5 separate regions of the Homo sapiens genome follow, and regions 1, 2, 3 and 5 are each linked to region 4. Evidence: fine-mapped expression QTL. A gene starts in region 4. Each other region holds a variant in brackets. All regions are shown on one strand. Distances are between the middles of the regions.

The links.
Region 1: its variant is fine-mapped to the expression of MICALL1 in neutrophils (BLUEPRINT, PIP 0.95).
Region 2: its variant is fine-mapped to the expression of MICALL1 in whole blood (TOPMed, PIP above 0.99).
Region 3: its variant is fine-mapped to the expression of MICALL1 in whole blood (TOPMed, PIP above 0.99).
Region 5: its variant is fine-mapped to the expression of MICALL1 in whole blood (INTERVAL, PIP above 0.99).

The regions. Positions count from the first base shown.
Region 1 is chr22:36,920,712-36,926,780 of GRCh38, reverse strand. CSF2RB (colony stimulating factor 2 receptor subunit beta) reads right to left here. Exons shown (of 14, transcript NM_000395.3): 2 at 4,498-4,745; 3 at 3,414-3,537; 4 at 604-794. The coding sequence starts at 4,573. LOC105373023 (a long non-coding RNA gene) reads left to right here and starts at 838. Exons shown (of 2, transcript XR_938230.2): 1 at 838-1,031. RefSeq lists enhancers at 78-1,277, 3,923-4,493, 4,913-5,292. The variant A/G (reference allele first, on the strand shown) is at 1,950.
Region 2 is chr22:37,875,844-37,881,918 of GRCh38, reverse strand. It overlaps EIF3L (eukaryotic translation initiation factor 3 subunit L), which reads right to left. Exons shown (of 13, transcript NM_016091.4): 10 at 5,908-6,075; 11 at 3,748-4,245. Among named protein-coding and RNA genes, the nearest start is that of MICALL1, 27 kb to the left of the region's middle. RefSeq lists a silencer at 1,682-1,841. The variant C/G (reference allele first, on the strand shown) is at 3,014.
Region 3 is chr22:38,062,686-38,068,760 of GRCh38, reverse strand. It overlaps PICK1 (protein interacting with PRKCA 1), which reads right to left. Exons shown (of 13, transcript NM_012407.4): 4 at 3,631-3,759; 5 at 991-1,057. Among named protein-coding and RNA genes, the nearest start is that of PICK1, 8.3 kb to the right of the region's middle. The variant T/C (reference allele first, on the strand shown) is at 3,192.
Region 4 is chr22:37,903,164-37,909,238 of GRCh38, reverse strand. It overlaps MICALL1 (MICAL like 1), which reads right to left and starts at 2,942. Exons shown (of 16, transcript NM_033386.4): 1 at 2,671-2,942. The coding sequence starts at 2,816. RefSeq lists enhancers at 990-1,803, 1,804-2,619, 2,620-3,435, 3,436-4,251 and silencers at 2,390-2,499, 2,610-3,329.
Region 5 is chr22:37,679,789-37,685,863 of GRCh38, reverse strand. It overlaps LGALS1 (galectin 1), which reads right to left. Exons shown (of 4, transcript NM_002305.4): 4 at 6,062-6,075. Among named protein-coding and RNA genes, the nearest start is that of NOL12, 3.5 kb to the left of the region's middle. RefSeq lists enhancers at 1-502, 3,851-4,351, 4,206-4,405. The variant C/T (reference allele first, on the strand shown) is at 2,776.

The sequences.
Region 1 (6,069 bases), 980 kb after region 4:
CTAATATAGAGGCAAATAAAACCTAACTACATAAAATAATCATCTACCCCACCCTAGACCACAGATGGCTTCATGGACCACTGTGGGATTTCGGCCCACACCGGGGCCCCTCCTCCAGGGCAGCGAGGAGACAAGCTCCCTGTCTACCATGCAGGAAGCCCCCGGGAAGGCTGACCCCATCTCTGTCATTACTGCTCAGCTGTGGGACTTCAGAGGAGGCATCTGACCTCCTGGGCCTCAAGGGCCACATCCAGGAAATGGGTTGCTTCAGAGATGAGATGAAACAACTAAGCGGACAGAGTTTTCTAACTTGGTAGGTTTCTAAGTGAGTGGTGAGAACGGTTTTCTTCAAGACAAGCCTGCAGTGCTGGAAGCCCATGGCTTAGTGGGAGGTGGTAGCAGCCAGGGGCACAGGAGAAGCCTTTGTCAGGGGCCCCTCTGCTCTGAAGTCTCCATGTAACCAGACCATACCCTCATCCCTCAAGAAACCCTCACCCAACCCCAAGCCACAGCCTTCTGCCTTGAAGACTCCCTGGACCACCCCTGGTGCCCCCGCTGTCCACACAGGAAACCAAGCCCCGGGCAGGGCCCCCAGCCCCTCACCATGCTGGGTCAGAGTGACGGTGAGCCGGGTGCCCAGAGGCCTGTCTGGTTGGAATGAGAAGTAGTCAACGTCAGTGACGACAAAACTCTGGCAGGGAATGACACATCTCCTGGGCACGCAGCGGGGATGGGGGCAGGCTGACCAGGGCATGTCATCACTGAGGTCACAGGACACTGGCTCCAGGAGGTCCCTGTTGGGAGAGGACACGGCTTAGCCCAGGGTGTATGGGTATCACTGACTCACGAAAGGTTCCTCGAGTGCTCACCACATGCCTGGCTCTGTTCAGAATCAGGGGCCAGCAGTGATAAAACACACAAAAATCCTGCCCACGGAGCTGCCATCCTGGGAGAAGGGGACCCGCATGGAACAAAGTGTGTAGCGTGTGCAGTGGAGAGAACTTCATGTGGAAAAATAAAGCAAGAAGCAGGTGAGGAGGGAGGAAGGGCTGGGCCAGGGAGGCAATTTGAAATATGGGACAAGCAGGCTTCTCTAAGGAGGTGACCTGGGGGCAGAATGTTAAAGGCATTGAGGGAGGGACTGTGCAAATTGTGAGGATTTCAGGAAATGGGAACAGCACGTGCAAAGGCCCTGGGACAGGCAGAGTTTGGTGTGCTGCGTGGCTTGGCCTAAAACCAGTGCGCAGGGAGTAGAGCGTGTGATAGGGAGGTCTAGGAGACCCATCCATCTACATGATGGGATTGGATCTCACTGCGAGTGAGTGGGAAACAGTCATGAGCAGAGGTGTTGTAGATTTTGATAAATGCTTTGAAAGGATTCCTGAGGGTCCTCGGTTGCGAATAGACTGAGGTGGGAATGTGGCAATGTTGGAAGCAGGGAGCCCAGTTACGAGGCTTCTGGAATATTCAGGTGACAGGAAGTGGCGTGCAACAGGGTGGTCAGGCTGGCGTGGGTGAGATTCATGTTCTGCTTGAGATAAGGTTGGCAGCATTTGCTGGTGGAGGGATGTAGCAGTCAGGAAGGAATGGTGACAAAAGAGACTTAAAAACAAAACAAAATCCTCCCTGTTGTTTAGTTTGAGCCACTAGGAGCTCCCATTTAGAAAGGGAGATGGGGAAGACAGAGGCAGCAGCGCAGCTCGGGTGAGAGCGGGACTTTGGTTGAGGACGTTTGGAGTCGGAGACACCTGTTGTCTAAGTGACAGGTGGAGAGGCCAGTACGCCTGGAGGGCTGGAGCTTAGGGGAATTGTGGGCTTGAGGTCACCTTTGGGAGATGCCCCAGGGGCCTGAGGGGGTCTCTGCAGAGTGGATACAGCAGAGAGGAGGTCCATGGACTGGGCCTGGGTGTCTTGCCATCAGGAGGCAGCAGACAAGGAGAAAGAGGAGG[A/G]TGGGCAGGGCCCCGGGGGCACTGGGTGAGCTGTGGGCAGAGTCAGGTGCAAGAGAAACTGCAGGGAGGCCGCGGTGGTCCTCCTTGTCAGGGGCTGCCCCTGGTCAAGTAGGAAGAAGGCGGAGGCCCAACCATGAGATCCTGCTCCCTGGGACATTTGCTGACTTGGACCAGAGCAGTTTGGGTGGCCTGGTGGGGGCAGCATCCTAGGGGAGTGGGCCCAGGAGGAAATGGCTGGAAAGACACTGGACGTGGTGAATGTGGACAACTCTTTAGGGAATGCTGCTGTCAAAGGAAGCAGAGAAAGAGGGGCCGCAGGGTTGCCAGGTCAGGAGATGCCCAGGCGCTGCACTCCTGTGGGCATCTGAGAGGGGGTTGGGGCAGGTTTGCAAGGCAATTGGGAAAGATCCTGGGAGAGGGCATGGTGGGTGGCACAGGGCAGAGTGGGGACTTGGGGGCCGTGATGTTCCTGAGCAACAGGACCAGACAGCATCGTGTCTCAGGCCTCAGACAGGAGCCCTGGTCCAGGCCCAGGCCCCGGCGGTGGGCAAAGGGGGTGGGGAGTGTGAGTGTGGGGTGGGTGGGGAGCTTCTCCCTGGTCCCCTGTTGTGTCAGAGCAGCAGGAAGCAGGTCACAGGGAGGGGCAGGATGGTCTTTGAGGAGAATGGAGAAGGTCCGACAGAGACGCCCTGGAGAACTGAAGGCGGTGGAGGGGTGGGGGTGGCAGAGCCGGCCCCGCCCCCCAACGCTGGGGTGACCTCCAATGGGTTGTCATCTGCCTCTCTGGTTCCAGCTATTTAATTACTTAATTTATGGCTGATTTAGACCCTGGCCAACACCCCAGAGCGATTCTGGTCCCCTTCCCTTGTGGCACGTGCCCAGGAGAGCTTGGGTGGGAGAGGTGGCAGCCCACATACGGAGGGGGGGCCTGGGAGAGCGCGGAGCCCCCTCCCAGACACGTCCACACAGCTTGCTCTGCCACTGTCTACCCCGTGGCCAGGGCTGGCACCTCACCTCCAGGGCCTCAGTTTTCCCATCTGTGAACTCCCAGGCTAGCGCCATCTCTCCTTGGTCTACTCTGGACAGGCAGGCAGTGGCACAGCTGGGGCTTCGTGGCCTGGCCCTGCCCACCTCACAGTGAGGAGGAACTAAGATAGGTCATGTGGGGCAATTGTGTTAAATTGTGATGAAACAAGAGAAGATTTTCACCATTGCCACCACCACCATTGTCACCAACATCAGTGTAGGAGGCACTCCGCAGAAACCCCAGGTCAGACGGCAGCACCCGGCCTCGCAGGTGCCTGGCGGAGCAGGAGCTCTTGCAGGGCCTCCCTCCTCCTCTGTCCTCTGTCCACTCCCACCCCGAGGCTGACCTGACAGGTCCCTCTCTACACTGTCGCCCCATGCCAGGCACAGGGGACGTCGTAGCCCCTGCCCGTGGCCCCTGCCCCCAGCATCACTCACTCATTCACCCGGCGAATGAGGGTCACGTTGACGAGCCGCTGGGCATCCTGGGTGTCTGCCCACCTGCAGGTGATGTGGCTGGTGTAGTCGTTGTAGCAGCGCAGGGTCTGCAGCGGGATGGTTTCTGACAAGAGGGGTAGAAGGGGGTCACCTCTCTTTCCTGCAGGGACCCTTGTCACCATCACCCCCAGCTGCTTTGGGATGTCCCGCTCTGGGGAGGGGTCTCCCAGGTCCCTGCAGAGGCACCAGGTGGCCAGGCACATGTACATGTGTTCATGTCTGCCGGGGTGGGCTCCTGGTTGCGGACCCTCCTCTCCTGGCAGAAGCAAGACATTCTGTTGGTTCTCAGCATGGTTTCTGGGCCTCCGCAGTGTGCTGTTCCTGGGCACGGTCCCCTCCCCCCACCCCAGGACAGGGACATGCATCAAGCACAGGCCTGGCCCCTGGACCGACTGTGCAGCCTGGGAGGGGGCACACACTCAGCCCTGGGATGCAGCGTGGCAGAGTTCTACCCTGCAACCTCCCACCTCCTCTCTAGTCCCCGTCCTCAGGAGCCTGGTATTTGTTAAGGGGACTGTGGTCCCAGCATTATCACAGAAGCCAGGTCTCTGGGAGCCCTTGGGAGGGGCCATTTCACCTCAAGAGCCCAGGAGCATCCCAGTGCGGGCTTCAGGCACAAGGAGGGTGCTAGCGGCTGAAGCAGGGAGAGAACCCCAGCCAAGGCCCTGCAGGAGCAAAGTCCCGGAGGTGGGAACCACTGAGGCACAGAGAGTGTCTGCTGGGGAAGGAGGGGCAGGGAAACGGCCAGAGCAGCCATCCTGGAGCCTAGGGGCCGGGAGTGCCGCCCTGAGAAATGTGGGCAAGGAAGCCAGACACGCTCAGCTGGACTTTCCAAGACAGGATGAGCAGGAATGTGCAGGAGGAGGGAAGCGGGGGAGGCCCAGGGAAGGCCAGGGGGAGAGACAGAGGGAGGGGAGCAGGAGGAGGGCTGGCGGGCAGGATCCTGAGGATACGCTGCGGCCCTCCCCCAGGGTGCAGCAGTGAGGACAGGGACAGGGAAGTGGGTGGGAGCCACGGGACTCACCTTCTGCCCCTGCCAGGCTGCGCTCCCAGCACAGGGCCAGCAGGGCCATGGAGAGCAGCCCCTGGGCCAGCACCATCTCCCTGGTCAGCTCTGGACAGGCAGGCACCAGCACTGGTGGGTGCTGGCCATGGGCATGACAGGGTCCTTAGTGTCCTGAAGTCCTGTGTTCCTGCCCAGCTGGGAGCCAGGCCAGACCCATTTCACAGGCTCTTGGGACCTCTCCCTCCTGGCCTCTGCCTCCTCCAGGCCTGCAGAAGGAGATGTCAGCAGTGAGCTGCCCCTCCCCTTCCACGTGTCCCAGGGACACCGCCCGTGTTGTGGGGACAACCCAGAGAAGTGGCCCTCATGCATGACCTCTCAGTCTCCTGCGGCATGAAGGCAATGGACATGCGCTGTGTGGCCTGAGGGACTGGGTCCCCACTTGGATCACTGACACCTACCACTGCACAATGCGCTAGACAGCAGAGCAGCTGAGACAGGGGCCTAGGATTTGACTCCTACTAAGCTCCCCGTGGGCTGCTGGTCCACGGCTGTTGGATGCCACAGTGTCATCCCCTGGACATGAACACATGTACACACACATGTCCTCACTTCCACAGGGCCTGTGCTCTCCCCACCCCTGCTCCTTTTACCGTCATCCCCCCACCCTCTGCTTGCCAGTTCCCTTTTCTCCTCGGAGGCCGGGGGTTTCCTCCCTTTCATTTCACTGGTCTGGGAAGTACCCAAGAGAGCAGAACAGACAAGTGTGGCTCCTTTTCTTCTGTTAGATTGTTGGAAGCTTCACTCAAGATGCCCATGCAAACACACACACACACACAAGCACACGGACACACGCAGGCACACACACGCACAACACACAGACACACACAGATACATACATATATACACGTACACACAAAACATGCACACACATACCCACATGTATACACACAAATGCACACACAGACACACACACAGAGGCAGACACAGACACACACAGATACATACAATATACACACATATACACACACAAACATGCACACACACATACAAACACACACACAGAGACACAGACACACATACACACATGAACAACACAGATACATACATGTATATACACATATATACACATATACACACAAACATGCACACACATTCACACATACACAGAAATTCACACACAGAGGCACACATACACAGACACACATACACATACATGCACAACACACACACACATACACACTCGCATATACCACCTACACACAGACATACACACACACATACAGATACATGCACAGACACACATACACACACACAGAATCTATCAATGGACATGCTGGCTGGAAACAAACTCTACTTGACCCCAGACTGAGAAGGAATCAGGAATCAATGTGAAGCGATGAAATATTAAATTTAAAAAAATGCTAAAATCATTGATTAACAACATAAAAATGCCTATCTAAAACCCCATTTTACACCATTCCCCAAATAACAAGTTAATTATAAATTTAAATGTAAAATGTTACATCCTATGAAAGCTGCAAACCAGAGGAGTGAATGCCTTTGAACTCTTTAAGCTTAAAAGCATAGGAG
Region 2 (6,075 bases), 27 kb after region 4:
TTGGGATTATAGCTATAAGCCACTGTACCTGGCCCAAAATGCTTTCAAAAACAATTAAAAATGCAGGATATTAGAAAAAAACTTACAGCATCAAAGAGCTGACAAGATAGTAACAGAACATTTTGGGAAAAAAGAAACCATTCTAAGAAAAGCACAGAAGACCCCCTCTGCCCTATGGACATTTGCTGATCTTAGAAAACCTGGGCTGACGGCCGTGTGTGGTGGCTCATGTCTGTAACCCCAGCACTTTGGGAGGCCGAGGCGGGCAGATCACCTGAGGGCGGGAGTTCGAGACCAGCCTGACCAAGACGGAGAAACCCTGTCTCTACTAAAAATACAAAATTAGCTGGGCATGGTGGCGCATCCCTGTACATCCCAGCTACTCGGGAGGCTGAGGCAGGAAAATCGCCTGAACCCGGGAGGCAGAGGTTCCGGTGAGCCAAGATTGTGCCATTGCACTCCAGCCTGTGCAACAAGAGCAAGACTCAGTCTAAAAAAAAAGAAAACAATTCTTTTAAAAACCTCATCAGCTCATCAGCGCCTGTAGTCCCAGCTAATCAGGAGGCTGAGACAGAAGGATTGCTTGAACCCAGGAGGCGGAGGTGGCAGTGAGCCAAGATCACATCACTGCACTACAGCCTGAGTGATACAATGAGACTCTGTCTCTAAATAAATAAATAAAAATGAAAATCTCATCAGACATTAAAATGTCCAGCTTGAACTTAAAAGTGCCAGTGAAAACTAACACTGTTCTTCAACCCACCTCCCCTCCTGAGAGGAAGCTACTGCTATGTTGCTTGTGTATCCTTCTGGAAAGAACTTGAGGCATACATAGGCATATATAAATGTATTACTAGCCACTCTGTAAAAACCTTACTTGTATTTTTTGTAATATACAAACCATCCAAACGTTAATCAATGGGAGAATGGATAAACTGCAGTACAATAACAACAGCAGATGCTGGACTATCACAGAACAATAAACATGAAGGAATCACTGCTACACACAATGGACGGTGACTCACTCAATTATAACGTTGAGCAAAAGAAGCCAGACTTAAAGAGTACATACTGTGTAATTCCATTATATAAAGTTCACAAACAGGCAGCACTAATCCAAGATGTTAGACATCAGGACAGGACAGGCGCAGTGGCTCACACCAGTAATCCCAGCATTTTGGGAGGCCAAGGTAGGAGGATCACTTGAAACTAGCCTGGGCAACAAAGTGAGACCCTGTTTCTATAAAGTAAAAACTTAAAATCGGCTGGGAACAGTGGCACATATCAGAGTTCGAGACCAGGCTGGGCAACATGGCCAAACCCCATCTCTACTAAAAATACCAAAAATTAGCCAGTCGTGGTGACGTGCGCCTGTAATCTCAGCTACTTGGGAGGATGAGGTAGGACAATCACCTGAACCCAGGAAGTTGAGGCTGCAGTGAGCTGAGATCACACCACTGCACTCCAGCCTGGGCAACCAGAGTGAGACCTTGTCTCAAAAAAGAGAGCCGGATGCAGTGGCTCACGCCTGTAATCTCAGCACTTTGGTAGGCCGAGGTGGGTGGATCACGAGGTCAGGAGATTGAGACCATCCTGGCTAACACAGTGAAACCCCGTCTCTACTAAAAAATACAAAAAATTAGCCAGGTGTGGTGGCGGGTGTCTGTAGTCCCAGCTACTCGGGAGGCTGAGGCAGGAGAATGGCGTGAACCTGGGAGGTGAAGCTTACAGTGAGCTGAGATCGCGCCACTGCACTCCAGCCTAGGCGACAGAGCGAGACATCTCAAAATAAAATAAAATAAAATAAAAATAAAATAATACCGGGCGCGATGGCTCACGCCTGTAATCCTAGCACTCTGGGAGGCCGAGGCGGGCGGATCACAAGGTCAGGAGTTGGAGACCAGTCTGGTCAACATAGTGAAACCCTGTCTCTACTAAAAATACACAAAATATTAGCTGGGTGTGGTGGTGTGAGCCTGTAATCCCAGCTACTCAGGAGGCTGAGGCAAGAGAATCGCATGAACCCGGGAGGCAGAGGTTGCAGTGAGCCAAGATCGTGCCACTGCACTCCAGCCTGGACGACAGAATGACACTCCATCTCAAAAAAAAAAAAAAAGCTTTGTGCAGTGGCAGTATGGCCAATGAGGGTTATGTGAGGTGTGATTATTGCTAACTAAAAATAAAAAAATAAAGAAGGCAGCAGGACAATGGCTTCCCACTTGTAAAGTACTCCAACAGTATACAAAGCACCATCCCCCTTTCTCCAATCTCATCTTCACAGCCTCCTTTCTCAGGCTACTCGGGCATACTACAACTGTCCCTTAAACTTATTGGCCTCACTCCTCTTCGGGGCCTTTGCTCTAACTGTTCCTCTGCCTGGAAGGCTCTTCCTCCAGATATCTGGTGAGCTATTTTTTTTTTTTTTGAGACGGAGTGTCGCTCTGTTGCCAGGCTACAGTGCAGTGCAGCGATCTCAGCTCACTGCAACCTCCGCCTCCTGGGTTCAAGTGATTCTCCTGCCTCAGCCTCCCGGGTAGCTGGGACTACAGGTATGCGCCACCATGCCCAGCTAATTTATTTTTAGTAGAGATGGGGTTTCACCATGTTGGCTAGGATGGTCTTGATCTCTTGACCCCATGATCTGTCCATCTCGGCCTCCCAAAGTGCTGGGATTACAGGCATGAGCCACCGTGTCCAGCCTTTGGTGAGCTATTAAGAACTCTCCACCAGATGGATCGCTTCAGGTCAGGAGTTTGAGACTAGCCTGGCCAACATGGCAAAACCCTGTCTCTACTAAAAATACAAAAATTAGCCAGGTGTGGTGGCGGCCTCTTATAATTCCAGCTACTCAGGATGCTGAGGCAGGAGAATTGCTTGAACCTGGGAGGCGGAGGTTGCAGGGAGCCGAGATTGCACCACTGCACTCTAGCCTGGGCGACAGACCAAGACTGTCAAAAAAAAAAAAAAAAAAACCAAAACACTACTCCCTCACCTCCTTCAAGTCTTAGCTTAG[C/G]TTAAACTTCACTTTCTCAACAAAGCCTGTCTGAACACCGTATTTAACATTGCAACCTGTGCTTCCCACCACCTCTGCCTTCCTTTACTCTGCAGTGCTTGGCAACTTCTTACTACATAGTTTGTTTAATTATAACATCTATTGTTTAATTATAACATCTATTGTTGGTAATCCCAGCACTTTGGGAGGCCAAGGCTGGCTGATCACCTGAGGTTGGGAGTTTGACACCAGACTGACCAACATGGAGAAACCCCATTTCTACGAAAAATACAAAATTAGCTGGGCATGGTAACACATGCCGGTAATCCCAGCTACTCAGGAGGCTGAGGCAGGAGAATGGCTTGAACCTGGGAGGCGGAGGTTGCGGTGAGCCGAGATCGTGCCATCACATTCTAGCCTGGGCAACGAGAGCGAAATTCCATCTCAAAAAAAAAACCAAAACAAAACCATCTATTGTTTATCTCTTGTGTTTTTTTTTTTTTTTTTTTAATAGAGAAAAGGTCTCACTACGTTGCCCAGGCTGGTCTTGAACTCCTGGGCTAGAGTGATCCTCCCACCCCAGCCTCCCCTAAAGTACTAGTATTACTGGCATGAGCCACCACACCTGGCACCTTGTGGCAGCACCACAAGGCCAGGAATCTTTTTGTTCCCCGATATACTTCATGTGCCCACAATAGTGAATGAAAGATACTGAACACTTAATACAAGACCCCAAGCCCAGGGGACAGGCATACCTTATCAATGTAGAAGTCAACCTCTGAGGCTGACTGAAATTCACCATCCAGGGCTGAGATACCGCTGGTCCACACGAGGTTCTTCATCTTGTGTTTGAAGACAAGAAGCTGGATCCGGAACTCCTGCTCTGTGAGGTCCAGGAAGCCAGCCAGCTTGGCCACAGGCATGGTGGTGTAGAGCTTCAGGAAGCTGCGGATGGTTGAAAGCTGGGCCTGCTGCTGTACTTCATCAGAAAACACCTTCAGCTGCTGCAGGAAGGGCTCTTTGTGGTAGTTGGGGTGCACATTATCATAGTTGGGCACTACAGGCGACAGGAACTTGGGGCAGGAGTAACTGAAAAGTTCTTCATAGACTTGTGGGTCACCTTTCTGCATGCGCAACATCTTGTCCCCATATTTCTCCCGCAGCTGGAGGTGAATGCTCTCATCAATACGCATGGGGTACATCGTGAGGGCAATGGCCAGCAGCGCATGCATCTGCTCATTCTGCTTGTTAATCTGGGGATGGGGTGGAGAGTGGTACTGGGTCAAATGAGACGGACTTCCTGAGGTCCCCACTGCCAACTGGCCTCACCATTCTCTGCACAGATCTTTGACTTACCCAGTTGTTTCATACCAGCCATTGAACTTCCCCAACATCTCTTCCAATCCTCCCTCTAGATCTACCTAACTTCCATCCTAGCTCCAGATCCTCCTTAGCCATCTTCTGGATTCCTTACTGGCACCTCTGTCTTAGTCTCTCCAGTTTGTCCCACACATCACTAGCAGGTCAATCCTTTTACACAGTTAGGATCGAGTTACCCAAAACCTTTGATGCAACCTTGATGACGACAGAAATATAGACTAAATAGTAATGTGCCGTGCAACAGCGTTTCAGTCAACAACGGGCCATGGGCCACATATAGGATGGTGATCCTGCAAGATTATAATCCTGTATTTTTACTGTATCTTAGATACACAAATACCTTTGTGTTACAACTGCCTATGGTATTCAGTACAGTAATATGTTCTAGACGTTTGTAGCCAAGGAGCCATAGGCTATACCATGTAGCCCGGGTATGTAGTAGGTTATCCCATCTAGGTTTGTGTAAGTACATTCTATGATGTTCACACAACAAAATCACCAAATGATGCATTTCTCAGAATGTATCTGCAGCATCAAATGACACAGGACTATACTTTACCTGGGTTAATGAAGGTTCTCAGAATCTAATAACCCAATTCCTACTACCTACTTGCCCTCCAGCCAGAACAGTTTATTGTGCGGCTGCATCACCACACTTTCAAGTCTCAACCACTTTGCTCATGATATTCTCTGCCTAGGAAGCTCCTCCCAATTCTTGAACCCATCCTCCTTCCCACCAATATCCACACCTTATATCAAAACATTTAGAACCCAGTGAACACTCAGCATACTGATGCTGAATAAATAAATGTAGGCACTGCTGGAGGATATAACTGAAACAAAAGATATTATCATCAAGTCCTTATCATCAAGATGTTAATGATCTGAGGTAACAGGCATCACAACAGAAACTCCTAAGAGTATGCTAGCCATTAAAAGTTCATTTTGGCTGGGCGTGGTGGCTCACGCCTGTAATCCCAGCACTTTGGGAGGCTGAGGTGGATGGATCGCCTGAGGTCAGGAGTTCGAGACCAGCCTGGCCAAATAGTGAAACCCCATCTCTACTAAAAATACAAAAATTAGCTGGACATGGTGGCACGCGTCTGTAGTCCCAGCTACTCAGGAGGCTAAGGCTGGAGAATCACTTGAACCCAGGAAGCGGAGGTTGCAGTGAGCTGAGATTGCACCACTGTACTCCAGCCTGGGTGACAGAGACTTCGTCTCAAAAAAAAAAAAAAAAAAAAAAAAAAATTAGCCGGTGTTGTTGTGTGCGCCTTTAAGCCCAGCTATTCGGAAGACTAAGGTAGGATGATCGCCTGATCCCAGGAGGTTGAGGCTGACGTGAGCTGTGACTGCGTCACTGCACTCCAGCTGGGTGATCTATTAGTAGGCACAATCACAGAGCGCTCTACAGTCTTGAACTCCTGGCTTAAAAGTGCAATATTTTGGATGGTGTTTACCAAGAATGGTTGGCATAGGTGCCAAGGATCCCCCTGATTAGAAAGGCCACTGGTGGCAGGCAGAGTCCCCCTTACCATCTCATACTTGTACGTGGTCCTCTGGAACATGCTCTTGGTCCTCTGGATGTAGAGGAGGATGTTGGCGAAGACCCGGATGGCATCCTGGTAACGACGCATCATCAAATATGCAAACCCAACATAATAGTATGTGGTGACCTGGCACTCTGGCACACGGGAATACAT
Region 3 (6,075 bases), 160 kb before region 4:
GCTGCCCGGGCTCAGCACAGGCTAATGGAAGCCAAGGAGGCCTCTTCCCCTCCTCTGTGTCACATCAGGACCTAGGGTGTCACATAAAGGGGAGGGGGAGAAGAGGGGCCCCTGGGCTGGTTATGTGAAAGTAATGGGCACCATCAATGACCATGAAGCTCGGACCCCAGACTCAGTTACTGCATCTGACCAGCTTAGTCCTAGGAAGGGGACTTAGTCCTGTGTTGGAACCAGAGGGTTTCGGAGGGAGCTCCCAGATAGATCCAGCCTGCCCTTAGCCCCTTGGCCTCTGGCCCTAGGGTGTATGAAGGGGATTGCTGGGCTCCAGAGCTGAGACCTAGGTGTGCGCTCACCAGGGGCTGCAGCGCCCTCTCTGGGTCTCAGGCTTTGATCCATAATGTGAAGCGGCCGGTCCAGAGGACTCGAAGCTGCTGTCCAGCTCTTGAGTCTTAAAGTTTCTACAGAACCGAGGCTCAGCCCCTCTAACAGGAGGGAACTTGTCCCAGGGCGCAGACCCTCTGCCCAATGCCTGAGGTCCAGTTCAGATCCAGAGTCCCCCTGGGAGCTGATGGCAGGAGAGGCCAGGGAGGAGTGCGCTGTGCTAGAGGGCATGAGGCGCCAGGCCAGGGTTAGGCTGCTCTCCCTTTATGAAGAGTGAGGCCCTGGGCCATGGAAGCCGAGGCGCTGGCCTGCAAAGGACAACCCTAGGGTAGCAAGTCCCCAGAGGAGATGGCAGAAGCAGGGAGGTAGGGGTGAAACGCGGGGGAGTGAGAAACCAGGGACAGAGTACAAGAACAGATGCAGGGAGAGCACCGGGAGGCCTCCCAGGCCTTTCAGATTTGCTTGGTCAGAGGTCAGAGCCCACAGCCATGTAACTCTGGATTCTCCTGTCATAAAGGGGAGGGCAGGGCTGGCTGTGGCACTTCTCCTTTGGGCCAGGGCCCATCCAGGGAGGCTGCTGGACACCCGTAACTGCTCTGACCAGCTTACCAATGTCCAGGGACATGCCCTGCTTGGGGTCCGCCTGCAGCTTGTTGTAGTGGATGGTCACCTCCCCCTGGAAGAGCAGCACACACAGACTAGTGAGCGAGGCTCCACACCCTGAGCCCCTTCCCAGCCAAGACTGTTCTGGACTGAGACTCCTGAGCCCAAGGCCGGGTGCGGTGGCTCACACCTGTAATCCCAACAATTTGGGAGGCTGAGGCAGGCAGATCACTTGAGGTCAGGAGTTTGAGACCAGCTTGGGCAACATGGCAAAACCCCATCTCTATTAAAAATACAAAAATTAGCTGGGCGTAGTGGCGCGTGCCTGTAATCCCAGCTGCTCAGGAGGCTGAGGCAAAGAATCACTTGAACCTGGGAGGCGGAGGTTGCAGTGAGCTGAGATCACACCATTGCACTCCAGCCTGGATGACAGAATGAGATTCTGTCTCAAAAAAAAAAAAAAAAAAAAGAATCCTAAGCCCCAGTAAGGGCCAGGCTGAGCGCTGTGACATGGCCCCACCTTGTGACCCTGTCTGATCCCAGGCCCCTCCCTTCCTACTCTACATCCAAGCCCTGGGGAATCAGTGGGGACAGGGCCGGCACCGGGCCCACAGCCTGGCGGTCTCTGATGTCTTGTGCTTCGGCCAGGTCAGGCTCTCCTTCTTCCCTCCCCACGCAAACCACACTCCAAGCCTTTGCCGTGTCATTTCCCTACACTGATTATTCCCTCCTCCACCCCAAAACACCCCATCCCCAGGAATCCCTCTACTCATCGAACAGCACATCTGAGCACTTGCTCTGTGCCTGGTGCTGGGGCACCAAGGGGAGGGGCAGGGGCAGCCCCAGCCCCGCAAGGCTGATGCGAATCAGGGAATTACACAAACCACTTTCTAACGACTGCTCAGGAGACAAAGGCTTCTCCCAAGAGGACTTGCCTGAGCACGGGAGGGCGCTGTGTTCACTCTCATCCTTGCAAACCAAAAGCCCTTGAACTTGGGACCACATTCATCCAAATATAAAACAGGATTTTAAAATCAAGTCCCAAAGGGAAACCAAAATGAGCAGATGCAATCAGAGTCAGAGGTGGGGTGTGAACTGCTCCCGCAGAATGAAACACAGGCGTGCTCAGGGGCCACCCCACAGGGAGCAGCTGTAGGCCAACGGCAAGCGGGCTGCAGTGGGAGTCGGGCCCGGGCTCCAGTTCAGCTGTGTGACCACAAGCAGGTCACTCCCCGCCTGTGGACACCTGTAAGATGGGAGAGTAATCCCTGCCCAGCACCCAAACAGGGGAGCTGGGCCAATGCTGCATCCCTGTCATGGCTGTGTGCAAATACAAAGAGCTCTTGTCCTCATGGGCAACCTGAGGTGCTGGTATGACCAAGCCTGAGAGGACAGGGAGGGACCTGGCGAGTGGAGATGGGGAGGAGATGCGGAGGGGGGAAGGGCTGCCAAATGGGGCACACACAACCCAACTCGGCCAGAACGAGACCCCCTGCACCTGTTCCCATGATCAGCTCCTCTGCCTAACAGGTCATACCTGAGGCAGTGATACCCAGACCACGTGGAGTGGCAGCTGTGGGGTCTCAATGAACCTTGCTGCTTCCTTTTTTTACAACAGAGCTCTGAGCCCCAGCCCCAGGCCCTGATTTGTCCTATGGCTAAAGGGGCTGGAATAGGAGAATGTGCAGGATGGGACTCTTCCTACAGCAAGGAAGGAGAGAAGCACGGACTACTCAGGAGCAGGACAGGAGGATAAAGGGGAGAGAGGATGGAGCAGCGGCTGGCCTGGGTTAAGGCAGGAAGGCGGACTATCAGGAGTGCCAGAACCCGGAGGATGGAAGTGGGGCTGAGGGAGGTAGCTGCCACCCTTGGCCAAGCTGAACTCACAGTGGGGACCCTTGCCCCCGAGACTTTCAAATCACCCCATGGCTGTGCACTGCCTGCACATCAGTTCTTTCACAGTATTGGTTTCCTGAGACTAGCTAGCAGCCACTTCGCTAGGAAATGGCAAAGGGGCTGCATGCTCGCTTCAGGAGAGGCCGGGATGCCGCCTGCCATTCCAGTCCTGGAGCGGCAGGGGTGGGGGAAAGCGGGGCAGGCAGTGTGTGACTCTGGTCTGTAGAGCAGAAGATCAGCTGGCCTGGGAGGGGGGTCTCTGGGTGTCTATGAGCCCAGGAGGCTGTGTGGGACCGAAAGTTCCTACAGGA[T/C]GGGGAAAGGGCACTCTTCTTTCCCTCCTAGCCCTCACAGGCCCAGCGTGACCCGGCTGACATTATTGGGTGTCTACTGACCCAGGGAGGATCACCTTGGACTTTTAGCTTCAGCTCTGGCACTGACTGGGGACACATGGGCTTGCCTGAGGGGTGGTTCCAAGTCTGTCAGCTCCCTGGGAGCTCATGGGGACCTTGTGGTCTTGCTGCCCACTCTCTTGCCAAGGTTCAGCACAAGTCCTGGAGCACGATTAGTATTTATTGAATGAATGAGGGATGGATGAGGGAGGCTGGAGTGTGACCCTGACCCTGCACATGACAAGGAAGGGGGCGGTGAGGGCTGATACCCCCTTCCAGGCCTGCTGGGACCTCTGGCAGCCTGGAGGTCTCAGAAACATGTGTTGCTGCCTCTGGACACCTGCTCTGCAGCAGCCCTTACCTTCACCTCCTGAATCATCTTCGCCACCTCCACCTTAGTTTTCCCTTTGATTGACCTGCCATTGACACCGGTGATCTCATCGCCAGCTGCCACTGTGCCGTCCAAGGCTGCTGGGGTGTTGTCAAATACCTGTGGGTGCATAAGGAGAGTGGTGGGGGAAGAAAGGGAGGGCTAAGATGGAACCTGGGAAGACACCTGACCACTGCCTGGCTCTGTCTTCCACTCTACCCTCTGCTCTCGTTTTTTGAGAAAGCGTCTCACCACCCGGGCTGGAGTGCAGTGGCGTGATCACAGCTCACTGTGGCACTGAACTCCTGGGCTCCAGCAATTCTCCTGCCTCAAATACATAGTCAAATGATTTCTTTTTTTTGAGTCGGCGTTTCGCTCTTGTTGCCCAGGCTGGAGTGCAATAGCGCCATCTCGCTCACCGCAACCTCCGCCTCCCGGGTTCAAGCAATTCTCCTGCCTCAGCCTCCCGAGTAGCTGGGGTTACAGGCATGCGCTACCACGCCCGGCTAATTTCGTATCTTTAGTAGAGACAGGGTTTCTCCATGTTGGTCAGGCTGGTCTCAAACTCCCGACCTCAGGTGATCCACCTGCTTTGGCCTCCCAAAGTGCTGGGATTACAGGTGTGAGCCACCGTGCCCGGCGGCATCAAATGATTTTTGACAAGGGTGTCAAGAACATTCAATGGGGAAGGACAGTCATTTCAACAATGGTATGTGAAAAATGAAGTTGACACTACTTAACACCACATACAAAAATTAACTCAAGGCCAGGCGCAGTGGCTCACACCTGTAATTCCAACACTCTGGGAGGCCAAGGCAGGCAGATCACCTGAGGTCAGGAATTCGAGAGTAACCTGGCCAACATGGCGAAACCCCATCTCTACTAAAAATACAAAAATTAGCTGGGCATGGTGGCAGGCGCCTGCAGTCCCAGCTACTCAGAAGGCTGAGGCAGGAGAATCGCTTGAACCTGGGAAGTGGAGGTTGTAGTAAGCCGAGATCATGTCACTGCACTCCAGCCTGAGCAACAGAACGAGACTCTGTCTCGAAGATAATAATAATAATAATAATTAACTCAAAATTGTTCAAAGACCTAAATGTAAAAGTTAAAACTATAAAACTCAGAAAAATGCCTAGTCCAAAACCTTCACGACATTGGAGTTTACAGTAATTTCTTGGATGTGACACCTAAGATCCAAGTAACAAAAAATAAACAAATTGAACTTCATAAAAATTTTAAAACTGGTGCATCAAAATACACCATCCAGTCTGGGCAATGTGGCAAAACCTTGTCTCTACAAAAAACACGAAAATTAGCTGGGCATGGTGGTGTACGCCTGTAGTCCCAGCTACTTGGGAGGCTGAGGTGGGAGGATCGCTTGAGCCTGGGAAACAGAGGCTGCAGTGAGCTGAGATCCCGTCACTGTACTCCAGCTTGGGCAACAGAGTGAGACACTGTCTCGAAAAAAAAAAAAAAAAAGAACAGAGAAGAGAAGAAAAGAAAGGCAACCCACAGAATGGGAGAAAATATTTGCAAATCACATTTTTGATAAGGGATTAATATCCAGAATATATGCAGAATTCCTAAAACTCTTTTTTCTTTTTTTCCTCTTAGCCGATTGTGCTTTGTAGAGAATTCTTAAAACTCAACAACAAAAACCAAACAACCTAATTCAAAAATAGACCAAGGGCTGGGCACGGTGGTGCGCACCTGTAATCCCAGCATTTTGGGAAACCGAGGTGGGAAGATCGCCTGGGCAATATGGCAAAACTCTGTCTCTACAAAAAAAATACAAAAATGAGCCAGGCATGGTGGCGCGTGCCTGTAGTCCCAGCTACTCGGGGGTCTGAGGTGGGAGGATCGCTTGAGCCCAGGAGGTTGAGGCTGCAGTGAGCCATGATCGCACCCCTGCACTCCAGCCTGGGCGACAGAGCAAGATCCTGTCTCAAAAAAAAAAAAAGTTAAGATGGTAAATTTTACCACAATAAAAAAATAGAAAAAAGCAGAACAGAGAATACAGAAAGCAGGATGTCATCATCGAGATACATGACAAGAAGGACATGGTGTTCCCGATGACGCCCTCTGAGGATCTGGCACAATAAACAAAAGCCTGTGCCTGCAGCTACCATCACGACTCCTCCCAACACCAGGGACAAAAACAAAGTCCTCAAAGTTCTCACAGATCAGAAATAAAACACATCACAAATAAAGGATCACCAATAAGAATGGCAATAGCCATGTGACAGCAAAGGACAATGTGACAAGGCCATCACACTTCCACACAGGAATTACTGTCAACCTTGACGTTCATTCTTGAATCGAATGAGCCAAAATGTCAACTGAAAGGAATATGGGAACCACAATGACCAAAAAAGACAGACCCGAGGTCTCAAAAAATTGACATCCCACGTGCCCTTTCTCAGAAAGCTACAGGAG
Region 4 (6,075 bases):
CTACTAAAAACTACAAAAATTAGCCAGGCATGGTGGTGCGTGCCTGTAATCCCAGCTACTTGGGAGGCTGAGGCAGGAGAATCGCTTGAATCCGGGAGGCAGAGGTTGTGGTGAGCCGAGATCACGCCACTGCACTCCAGCCTGGGTGACAGGCCTCCATCTCAAAAAAACAAAAACAAAAACAAAAAAAACCCTGCATGGTTCCCTGAGGCCCCTATCCATGCTCCTTAGCCAGCAAAAGCAGCTGTCAGCCATCTGTCCCAACTGCATCTCCCAACTCGCTACCTTGTGCTCCCCACTCAGCTACACAGCCTCCAGCTTTGCACACACCTCCCGCCCCTTGCCTTTGCTCAGATGGGGTCCCATGCCAGAACGTCCACCCAGCAGCCCTCACCTGGCTCCTGCCATCTCCTTGAAGACTATATTCTCCCTAGGAGGTCTCCCACCCCCAGCCCTCTGATAGGGTACATGGAATTGCCATCATCGTTTATACACGTTTCCCCTACAGGTGTGGGAGAGCGTGTAGGGTTGCCTGTTTTGTCGATTGGTACTTCCATTACCAGGTACAGTGTCCAGCACAGAGCAATATGACTCTACAAATACTGGTTGAATAAATGAAGAAATCAAACATTGTTATTGGGCCAGGCATGGTGGCTCATGCCTGTAATCCCAGCATTTTGGGAGGCTGAGGTAGGCAGATTACTTGAGCTCAAGAGTTCAAGACCAGCCTGGGCAACATGGTGAAAACCCATCTCTACAAATACAAACAAATTAGACAGGCGTGGTGGCGTGTGCCTGTGGTCCCAGCTACTAGGGAGGTTGAGGTGGGAGGATTGCTTGAGCCCGGGAGGTGGGGGCTGCAGTGAGCCATGACTGTGCCACTGCACTCCAGCCTGGGTGACAGAGTGAGACCCCATCTCAAAAAAATAAAAAACATTAAAAAAAAAAAAAGTAACATTAGTTACTCACAGTAACTAATGTTAAATGAATGCTTGTTATCTCATGCAATCCTCACATTTCTGTGAGCTGTGTCACATTATCAATCCCACCTCACAGATGAGGACACTGATGCCTGGAGAGAGCCCATGAGGACCCAAGGCCATGCGCCTAAGACATGGAGAAGCTAAACACAAACCAGGCGGCCTTTATTTACTTTGATGCCACCAGGCTCAGGCCCACCAAATGGCTTCACTTCACACCCAAGTCCCCTCCCACACTGGGTTTGTCCCTGCTTCCTGCCTCACTCCTGCCCCTCAAACAAAACAGAAGACCCCTTGGGCCCTCCCTTCCAATGCCCAGGTCTAACCCTGGTGCCCTTTTCCTCCATCCTTCTACCCCCTGCTCCTGGGCAACCAGGCATCAACCTTGTGCTTCCATTAGTATGGGTGTCACATGCCCCACAGCGGGCAGGGGCCCACCTACATGACCACCTCATCTTGTTCCCTTCTGTATCCACAGCCCCAAAACCCTCTCCTCCAGGGCCCAAGCCACCACCCACAGACACGGTACTGCAGGGTACATACAGGTAAACCAGGTGCACCTGCATCATGGAATCCTGAGGCAATCCCTTAGAAGCCTTCCCACATGCTGCCCTCGGACAGTGCAAATCTGGAGGTGGAACAGGCACAGAAAGCCTCCATCTGCCAGGCTGGGGGAGCCCTGGCAAGAGGGCTGCATGCGAAAGGGGTAGGGACCAGAACTCTCCTCCCTGATTCACAGGTGAGACCTGAAGTGCAAGGAATGGCACCAGATAAACTCACCCAGTGTTTTAGGAATGAAGGGACGAAAGGAGGAGAGGTTCCAGGGCTCAAGGCAGAGAGAGCAAAGACAGAGGCTCCAAGTCAACTGTTCCGGGGAGTCTGAATGCATTTTCCCATGAGAACCTCATTGGGCAGCTCTGGGCAGGAAGGGGCCATTTCACAACCTGCAGCACCCGGTTGGTGTCTATCAATCGGATCCTAGGAGTCTTCCCAACATTGCCGGCCTGTGACTCCTCTTGCGCGCCCCACCTGCGTGCCCCACTGAGGAGGGCTGCAGGGCCATCGAGCACACACCCGGGAGGCAGGGCTGCGTCCTAAGTTGGGGGGCGTGGGGAAAGCACAGGGTCTGTACATCCATTCATCCAACACCTGTTAGCCGAGGTCTCCTCTGTGCCGGGAACTGTGCTACTGTCCGGAGACAAGCTCCTATTTGGGGGTCAGAGAAGTGGGGGTTCACCTGCACACCCGGAGCAAGGGGCCACCCCGAGTGGGAAGCCTCGGGGGAGAGGGGAGGCCCGGCGAGCCCGTGGAGAAGAGTTTAGGGTAGGAGAGGCCCAGGGCCCCCAAAGAGGGCTCAACACCCCTTCAAAGAGGTCAAGGGCTTAGGGGTTCAGCGATCCTCGGCGGAAATCAGCGCTTTGTGGGCGGGGCCAGTGTCCCCGCGGAGGGACCAGCCTCGGGGGAGAGTTCGGGATCCCACGGGCGGGGTCAGGGCGGCCGGGCGGGGGAGGGGCGCCCTGGGCCGGGGTCTCAGGGACCCGCCCGGCGTCCGGGGCCGTCGGGGGGGTCGGCGTCTCCGTGTCCGGGGGCGGCGCCTGTCACCGCCCGGGCTTCGTGTTACTGAGGGGGGGCGGCGGTCGCGGCCCCAGCCCGCCCCGCGCCGCCCGCTCGCCCGGGGCCCCGCACTCACAGCAGGTCGGGCCGGTGCCGGTGCAGGATGGCGCAGAAGGCCAGGCCGTCCCGGAAGGAGCTGCTCAGGTCGCGGATCTCCACGCCGCGGTAGCCCTCGCACTGGCGGCGGCACCAGGCCAGCAGCGCGCCCCGCGGCCCAGCCATGACCCCGCGGCCCGCCCGGCTCCGGCTCTGGCTTCGGGGCCCCGGCTTGGCCGGGACGGCGGCCGCCGCGCGGGCCCGGTTTCCGGCTGCGGCTGCGGCTCCGAGCTCGGGCGCCGACCGGCAGGCGAGGGGAGGGGCGGAGGCGGGGCCGCGGTGTCCTCGCTCGGGCGCCCCGCGGCCCTGCCCTAACCTGCCCGAGCAGCGCCGCCGCGTGGCCCGGCCCGGCCGGCCGCCGCCTACTCCGCGCTGCCCGCTCGCCTCATTGTGGGCCGGTCGTGGGAGCGGGCGTCCCGCCGCCTCCGTCCGCGCCGGAGGCGCGCCCCACCCAGCAGCAGCTCCGCCTCCAGTGCGGAGCCCACCCCTACCAAGACGGGCCGGCGCCCCATCGCCCGCCCCTCGACGGCGCCGGGCTCCCGCTGCTCCACTGGGTGCCCGCGAAGCCCCCGCACCCGCCGCAAGCGGACCACTCCCCACGATGACTTCACCGCCGCGGCCGCCGCCGCGCCACCCACCGGGAGCCCTCCACCCTTTGGAGGCGGGACACCTCGTGCTCCCATCCGGCCTCCTTCCCGCTCCTAATGACCGCAAATCCCCCCTTCCACCCCTAGCTTGAAACTTTGGGGAGGCAGTTCCCCTGCAGACCTCAGAGCACCCCCCCCCGGATAGCCACCAGCTTCCCTCATCCCGGCTCCCCACCCTAAAGCACCGCTGAGCTGGAAGTTGTCATGTCCACCATCCCCTCCCCCATAGCTTGGCAGGGAGACCCATGCGCCCCTCCGCCACCTTTGGTCCAGGTGTCCCCTAGGTGATTCACTGAGCTCCCCTCAGCCCCTGTGTAAGCTCAGGGATCTCGTCCCTCCCCACTGCGGCCTGCCGGGTCCCCTCAGCCATGGTTAGTGTGGTGGTGGTTTGAGTTCCTATGGGAAGGACCTAGGCCAAGGAGGCCCCTGCCTGGGAGGCATACAGGCAGTTTGTATCTGGCCCTGGAACCTCCCCAAGGCTCATTCTCTATCTTTGCCGTCTTCAAAACCCCCGCCAGCCAACCGACCCTTCCAGCCAGCCAACCCTTCCAGCCAGCCGACCCTTCCGCAGAGGCCCCTCCTGACTCTCCCACAGATGAATCAGCCTCCATCTGCTGCAGAGGTGGTGATGTCACCCTGACCCATGCAATAGTTAGCTGGAGTGGGTATTTCGCTCCCTCCCAAGGGAAGGAACAGGGTCTTAGTCATCTTCATCACCCCTGAGCACTCAGGGGAGTGGAAAGATCAGGCATTTTGGAGCCCTATTAACCCAATCTCCAATCCTGGCTTTCCCCACTCCCTTAGTCATGTGATCTTGTGCCTCCCTGGACCTCAGTTTCCACGACTTAAAAATGGAGATAATACCTGCTTTACAAGGTGGCTGAGAGGATTAAGATGTAAAGTGCCTTACCCTTTAGTTATCACTCATAAATTCTATTGACTCCTGGTACTTGGTAAACATGATGAAATGGACTGAAATATTTTGTACCCAGATTGTCATCTGGGCCATTCTGGGTAAATTATCAAGGAGAGAGGCCGACTTAGGGAATTCTACCTCTTCAAAGTCCACTGAGTCCCAGTCCAGAATACTGGCCCAGGGCCTGGAGAACCCAGCTTGCCAATCTGGGCTGGCCTAACACTCCTGCAACTGGAAGGCCGCCATCTTGGCTCAGTATATGGACTCTCAGGCCACCTAGGAAGAGCATGGCCAGAGTGCCTGGCTAGCCCTCTGGACTTCTCACCAGCCCTGAGCTGCCAACTCCTGCCCTGTCCCCTGTGGGATAACAGTGGCAGGAAAGCAGGATTCCGGATGCTTTTTATGAAATCAGGGACTTGGGTTCAGGATCCTGACACCAGCATCCACCTAGGCCTTCAAAGACCACCCAGGACTCTCATTAAAACCTAAGGGGGGCGGGGTTGGGCACCATGGCTCATACCTGTAATCCCAGCATTTTGGGAGGCCGAGGCAGGTGGATCACCTGAGGTCAAGAGCTTGAGAACAGCCTGGCCAACATAGTGAAACCCCGTCTGTACTAAAAATACAAAAAATTGGGCCAGGCGCGGTGGCTCACTGTAATCCCAGCACTTTGGGAGGCCAAGGTGGGCGGATCATGAGGTCAGGAGTTCAAGACCAGCCTGGCTAAGATGGTGAAAGCCCGTGTCTACTAAAAATAAAAAAATTAGCCAGGCGTGGTGGCACGTGCCTATAGTCCCAGCTACTCGAGAGGCTGAGGCAGGACAATCGCTTGAACCTGGGAGGCGGAGGTTGCAGTGAGCCAAGATCACGCCACTGTACTCCAACCTGGGGGACACAGCGAGACTCCATCTCAAAGATGGTGGGTTTTTTTGGCTCACGCCTGTAATCCCAGCACTTTGGGAGGCCAAGGCAGGCAGATCACGAGGTCAGGAGATCGAGACCAGCCTGGCTAACACGGTGAAACCTCATCTCTACTAAAAATACAAAAAATTAGCTGGGCGTGGTGGCACACACCTGTAATCCCAGCAGGAGAATGGCTTGAACCCGGGAGGTGGAGGACGCAGTGAGCTGAGATCGCACCACTGCACTCCAGCCTGGGCAACAGAGTGAGATTCCATTTAAAAAACAAAAAACCAAAAACAAACAAAAGAAACCAGGAGGGATTATAGCCCTGTCCTCACTAGCCTAAAGGGCTCCCTTTAGGTCCCTGAAGACAGCTCCATATCTGATCCTGTTGCCATACTAATAGCTTACACAGCACAGCCTGGTCACCCCCATTAGCCATTTGTGGGCTTTATAAACTCATTATCTGAGTCAGCTCACAATGTTTCGAAGTAAGGACCTGTACGACCACAGTGTGTGACCGCAGGCCAGACAACTCACCCTCATGAACCCCAATTTCTTACCCTATAAAATGAGGATGATAATACTTGCTTTGCCTGAATCCCAGGGTTGTGGGTAACAAGGTGAGATAATGGATGAGAAAATGCTGTGCAGACTGTAAATCCAGGGTTCAGGTGGAAGGTGGGTCTGTGTGTTTACAGGTGAGATCAGAAGCCACAGAGATAGGTGAGTAGGGCACTTGCCCAAAATCATGCTATAATTTCGGGATTAGAATTGAGAGACTTGGGCCCTTAATTCAGTGCTGTTTTGTTTTATTTTTAACTATCAATTAAGAAATGGGGCCAGGCACGGTGGCTCATGCCTGTAATCCCAACACTTTGGGAGCCAAGGCCAGGAGTTCAAGACTAAACCAGCCTGG
Region 5 (6,075 bases), 220 kb after region 4:
GACAAGTTTTCACCATGTTGACCAGACTGCTTGAACTCCTGACCGCAAGTGGTCCTCCCATCTCGGCCTCCCAAAGTGCCGGGATTACAGGCGTGAGCCACCGTGCTGGCCCCTACTTTAGATGCTGATGTCAACTCGTTGGTAGTCTCCAAGAGGGAGCCAAACTGCCTGGATTTGTATACTGGCATCACACCTACAGCTGTGTGGTCCCAGACCAATGGTCTTCGCGGTGCCTCACCCTATTTGTAAAATAAGGGAAAGTATAGTAGCTTCGTAGGGTTGTTGTAGACACTGGTTCTGGAACTTTGGCATACATCAGAATCCCCTAGAGGGCTAAAAACCTGGATCGCTGGGCCCCACCCCGGAGTTTCTGATCCGATAGAGGTTTCTGAGTGGATTTCCGTTTCTAGCAGGTTCTCAGGTGATGCTAATGCTGCTGGTCCGTGGACTAAACCTTGACAGCTGTGATTGTGAGGAAGTTAATTATGTAAAGTTTGTCTAACATAAGGCACGCATACATGTGTTTTCTGCACAAGCCATCTTCCCTCTTTGTGCCTCACTTTGCCCAAAGGTGGAATGAGTGTATAATAACATCCTTGACTGAGAATGAGGGCATGGTTGTGAAAGATTGCAGTGAAACAACGCCTGAAGGGGATTTTTAGTCACTTGGATTGTATGCCAGAATCCTTCATCCGCTTTTTTTTTTTTTTTTTCTGAGACAGAGTTTCGCTCTTGTCACCCAGGCTGGAGTGCAGTGTTGTGATCTCGGCTCACTGCAGTCTCCGCCTCCCAGGTTCAAGCAATTCTCCTGCCTCAGCCTCCTGAGTAGCTAGGATTACTGGCACCTGCCAGCACGCCCAGCTGATCTTTGTACCCTGACTCTGAGTTTTGGAAGGAGGCAGGCAGTAAGTGCAGCACTCCAGAATGCTGAATTCATTCCATACAGCTCCTCTGCTTGGGAAATCTATGTGGGATCCTGAGAGGAAGTTACCTTTTTTTTTTTGAGACGGAGTTTCACTCTTGTTGCCCAGGCTGGAGTGCAATGGCACGATCTCGGCTCACTGCAACCTCCGCCTCCCAGGTTCAAGCGATTCTCCTTCCTTAGCCTCCCTAGTAGCTGGGATTATAGGCATGTGCCACCATGCCCGGCTAATTTTGTATTTTTAGTAGAGATGGGGTTTCTCCGTGTTGGTCAGGCTGGTCTCAAACTCCTGACCTCAGGTGATCCACCCACCTCGGCCTCCCAAAGTGCTGGGATTACAGGCGTGAGCCACCGCGCCCAGCTGGAAGTTACCCTTAAACTACAGGCCTGGCCTTTCAGTTCTGTGGCCCAGAGCAATGCAGGGGGCTCCCTTAGGGTGCTGGACTGCACCTCTGACCAGCTGCTTCTGCCCCTTAGTGGCAGTGCCTTAAAGCCACCCTTGGCACCTTCCTGGGTAGAGGCATCACCCTGGCTGAAGGTGCCCAGAGAGTCACCTTCTGCAGCTGGTCTGTCTCCTCCCAGTCCCAGGCTTCGACCTGCTTGGTTTGCCAGGGCTCCACTCCCACCCAGAGTGGTTGGAGATGAAAAGTGAAGGCTCAAGCCGGGCGCGGTGACTCACACCTGTAATCCCAGCACTTTGGAAGGCTGAGGCGGGAGGATCACGAGGTCAAGAGATCGAGACCATCCTGGCCAACATGGTGAAACCCCATGTCTACTAAAAATACAAAAATTAGCTGGGCATGGTGGCACACGCCTGTAGTCCCAGCTACTTGGGAGGCTGAGGCAGAAGAATCACTTGAACCCGGGAGGGTTGCAGTGAGCCGAGATTGCGCTGCTGCACCCCAGCCTGGCGACAGACAGTAGAGCAACATAGTAAGACCCTGTCTCTACAAAAAATTAAAAATTAGCCAGGCGTGGTGACATACTCCTATAGTCCAGCGACTTGGGAGGCTGAGGTGGGAGGATCACTCAAGCTCAGAAGTTTGAGGCTGCACTGCAGCTGTGATCATGCCACTGCATTCCACCCTGGGTGACAGAGTGAGACCCCATCTCTGAAAAAAAAAAAGAAAAAAAAAAAAAACAGGCCAGGCGCAGTGGCTCATGCCTGTAATCCTAGCATTTTGGGAGGCCAAGGTGGGTGGATCAATTGAGGTTCGGAGTTCCAGACCAGCCTGACCAACATGATGAAACCCCATCTCTATTAAAAATATGACAATTAGCCGGGCGTGGTGGTGCATGCCTGTAATCCCAGCTACTCGAGAGGCTGAGCTACTCGAGTAATCACTTGAACCCAGGAGACAGAGGTTGCAGTGAGCCGAGATCCCGCCACTTCACTCTAGCCTGGTCAAAAGAGCAAAACTCTGTCTCAAAACAAAAAACAAAAACAATAAGAAAAGAAGTGATGATAAACTTAATGAGGAAAAAGAGTAACAAGAGCAGCTGACATTTATTTAGCTCTTTACTCTCTTTAGATTATTGATTTTATTATTTATTTATTTATTTATTTATAGAGATGAGGGTCTCACTATGTTGCCCAAGCTGGTCTCAAACTCCTGGGCTCAAGCGATCCTCCCCATTCAGCTTCAGGAGTAGCTGGAACCACAGGTGCCCACCACTGTGCCTGGCTTATGATGATCTCTTTTGAGGTACAATCCACATTTTACTGAGGAGGAAACTGAGGCTCAGAGAGGTGCAGTCACTTGTCTGAGGTCACACAGGCAAAAACAGGTGCTGAGGGTGGGGCGCAGGTGGCCTAAGGACAGAGATTGACTTAACTTATCTGGACCTAGTTT[C/T]CTAGGCCCTTGGGACACACCAAGCCTTAAAAGGGGTGAAGGGAACCAACACTCACCGAGCCCCTATTGCGTGCCAGGCACCATGCATTTCTATACATCACCTCAGCTAATCTTTTTTTTTTTTTTTTTTTTTTGAGACGGAGTCTTGCTGTGTCGCCCAGGCTGGAATGCAGTGGCATGATCTCGGTTCACTGCAACCTCCTCTTCCCGGGATCAAGTGATTTTCCTGCCTCAGCCTCCCCAGTAGCTGGGACTACAGGCATGCACCACCATGCCCGGCTAATTTTTGTATTTTTAGTAAAGACGGGGTTTCACTTGTTGGCCAGGCTGGTCTCAAACTCCTGACCTCAAATGAATCTCCTGCCTCAGCCTCCCAAAGTGCTGGGATTACGGGTGTGACCCACCACACCCAGCCAATACTAGTGCAGTCTTTTTTTTTTTTTGAGATGGAGTCTCGCTCTGTCACCCAGGCTGGAGTGCAATGGCGCAATATCGGCTCACTGCAACCTCTGCCTTCCGGGCTCAGGCGATTCTCCTGCCTTAGCCTCTTGAGTAGCTGGGATTACAGGCACGCGCCACTGCGCCCGGCTAATTTTTTTTTTTTTTTTTTTTTTGAGACGGAGTCTCGCTCTGTCGCCCAGGCTGGAGTGCAGTGGCGGGATCTCGGCTCACTGCAAGCTCCGCCTCCCGGGTTCACGCCATTCTCCTGCCTCAGCCTACCAAGTAGCTGGGATTACAGGCATGCACCACCATGCCCGGCTAATTTTTTATATTTTTAGTAGAGACGGGGTTTCTCCATGTTGGTCAGGCTGGTCTCGAACTCCCGACCTCAGGTGATCCACCCGCCTCGGCCTCCCAAAGTGCTGGGATTTACAGACGTGAGCCACCATGCCCGGCCTAATTTTTGTATTTTTAGTAGAGACGGGGTTTCGCCATGTTGCCCGGGCTGGTCTCGAACTCCTGACCTTAGGTCATCCACCCACCTCGGCCTCCCAAAGTGCTGGGATTACAGGCGTGGGCCAGCGTGCCTGGCCAACTAGTGCAGTCTTAACAAAGTTTGCCAGATGAGGAAACTGAGGTTCAGAGACGTTGAATAACTGGTCCAAGGGCACACAGCCACAGAGCTGGGGTTTAAACACAGGTCTGTCTGACGCTGAGCCGGGCTTCCTTCCTCCACACCCAGTGGCCTCTCTTACCTGCCCCAGGACTTTCCTCTGCCCGGTTGTGGCCCCAGTCCTAGTGTCCTGTGAGTGTCAGCCAGTGTAGGGGAGAATCAATGTGGGTGAACTGAGGACAAGGCAGGGCAGCCTGGGGGACGTGTTCTCCAATGTCCAGCAGAGGGCACTCCATCTGCAGCCAGGCTTCTGAAGCTGTTTCTGGGTGGCCACCTGGGAGCCCCAGGAGAGCCTGGAGATTGGGTGTGGCTCATGGGAGTTCTCAGCATGTGTGTTCCATCCTCTTTGACCTCATAGAGAGATACATGACCCCCGCTTCCACCCAGGTCCCAGGGCACCCACTGAGATGGAAATCATCTACCCAAAATGGGTCTCATTTTATGGATGAGGAAACTGAGGCTGGGTGTATAAGAGACCTACTCACAGCTGGTGCCAGTTGCCCTAGAAAGTGAGATTTGCCAAGACCCCCCCACCCACGCACCATGCCTCAGGAGACTGTGCCTTGGGGTTATGGGGGAGCCTAATGATGTTCTCATTCTAACCTTCTGAACTTTGGCTCAGTTCCTGCAGCTGGTTCCCAGAGAGGTAGGGGCCCTGGGAAGATCTGACTGCAGCAGCAAGCAGGAAGGAAAAGGTGCAGGGAAGTAGTCAGTCTGCAGGGCACCCTAGCCGTCCACTCAGGCCCCAGCAGTTGTGATGGGTGGGTTTGATGGGGTTGGGTTAAGCATTACCCTCCAAGGTAACAGCCTGGGCTGGTCTTGGAGGAGACACTGTCTTTGGAAACCAGGAGAGAACAGGCTCATGGAGACCTCATCTCAGGTTGAGTGAGTCACCCCTACTCTGTACCCCAAGGAGGAGGCTGCGGGAGTCTGGAGGCTGGGCCTCATGTTGGCTGGCTTTTACCTCTTGGTTCTCTGCAGAGGCTGACGTAGCCCCCAACCCCAGCTCCTCCTACCACAGAAACGGGCTGGCAATGGGGTGCCAGGGTCATCACCCAAACCCACTGTTGGGGTGGGGGCATCTGCCCAGGAATGAGAGCCGGCAGCTTCCAGACTAGTCCTTTGGTTGCCCATACAGTCTAGCAAAGTGGGGTGCATGGCCTGAGCCCACAAAGCCGGGATCCCTGAGGAGCCCCGCAGGCTCAGCTGGACCTGGTACAGATCCGGGAGTCATTTCATCAATCAGAGCCCATTTCTTCCCCTTCAATTGGAGTAATAGCACCTCAAAAGTGGTGCAGGGATCTGGGTACGGTGACACACACCTGTGGTCCCAGCTACTCAGAAGGCTGAGGCAGGAGTATTGCCTGAGCCCAGGACTTTGAGTCTGCAGTATGCCATGATCATGCCTGTGAACAACCACTGCACTCCAGCCTGGGCAACATAGGAAGACCCCCATCTCTAAAAAAATAAAAATAAAAAAAAAAATAATCCGTGCACGAGGTATGGGAAACCACTATCCACTAAGCATTTACCATATGCCAGGTATTGAACTTGGCTTCTTTCATGCAACACCTCATTTAATCTCCACTTGATCTCAGCCAGAAGGCCAAGAAGTGACTGGTCTTTGGAACAACTCTTTGATAGGCTGTTTGTGTTATCCTCCTTGTTATAAAGGAATAAGCTGAGGTTCAGAGAGGTCAGTTAACATGCACAAGGCCACATAGCTGGCAGCCCGTTGTTGTCTGACTCCAAATCTCTTTCTAGCTCATGAAGGCAAATGAGAGGGGTCTCGTATTCTTCCCTCCACCTCCCTGTCTTCTGCCCCGTCACTACACACGAATTGGTCTGTCCTTGCCTCTTTCCCCCTTGATGTCATTTATGCAACATCCTTTGAGCATCTGCTGTGTGCTAGGGCCCACTAGGCTAAAAACAGTTTCAGGGCAGGGACTGACTTTTATTCAGTGGTCACTGACCCTCCTACTATGTGCCAAACTCTGTGTGCTTTGTCTGGGGGACCCAGCGGAAGACGTCATTGGAACTGAGGAGGTACCCGTGGACAAAGCGAATGGAAGTGAAGGAAGGGGGCAGGCCTGGAGGTGGGGGACCCCTCTCACACACACAAACACATGCACACACATACACACACACGCACAAGCACACACACGAGGCTGGTTCAGAGGGAGCAG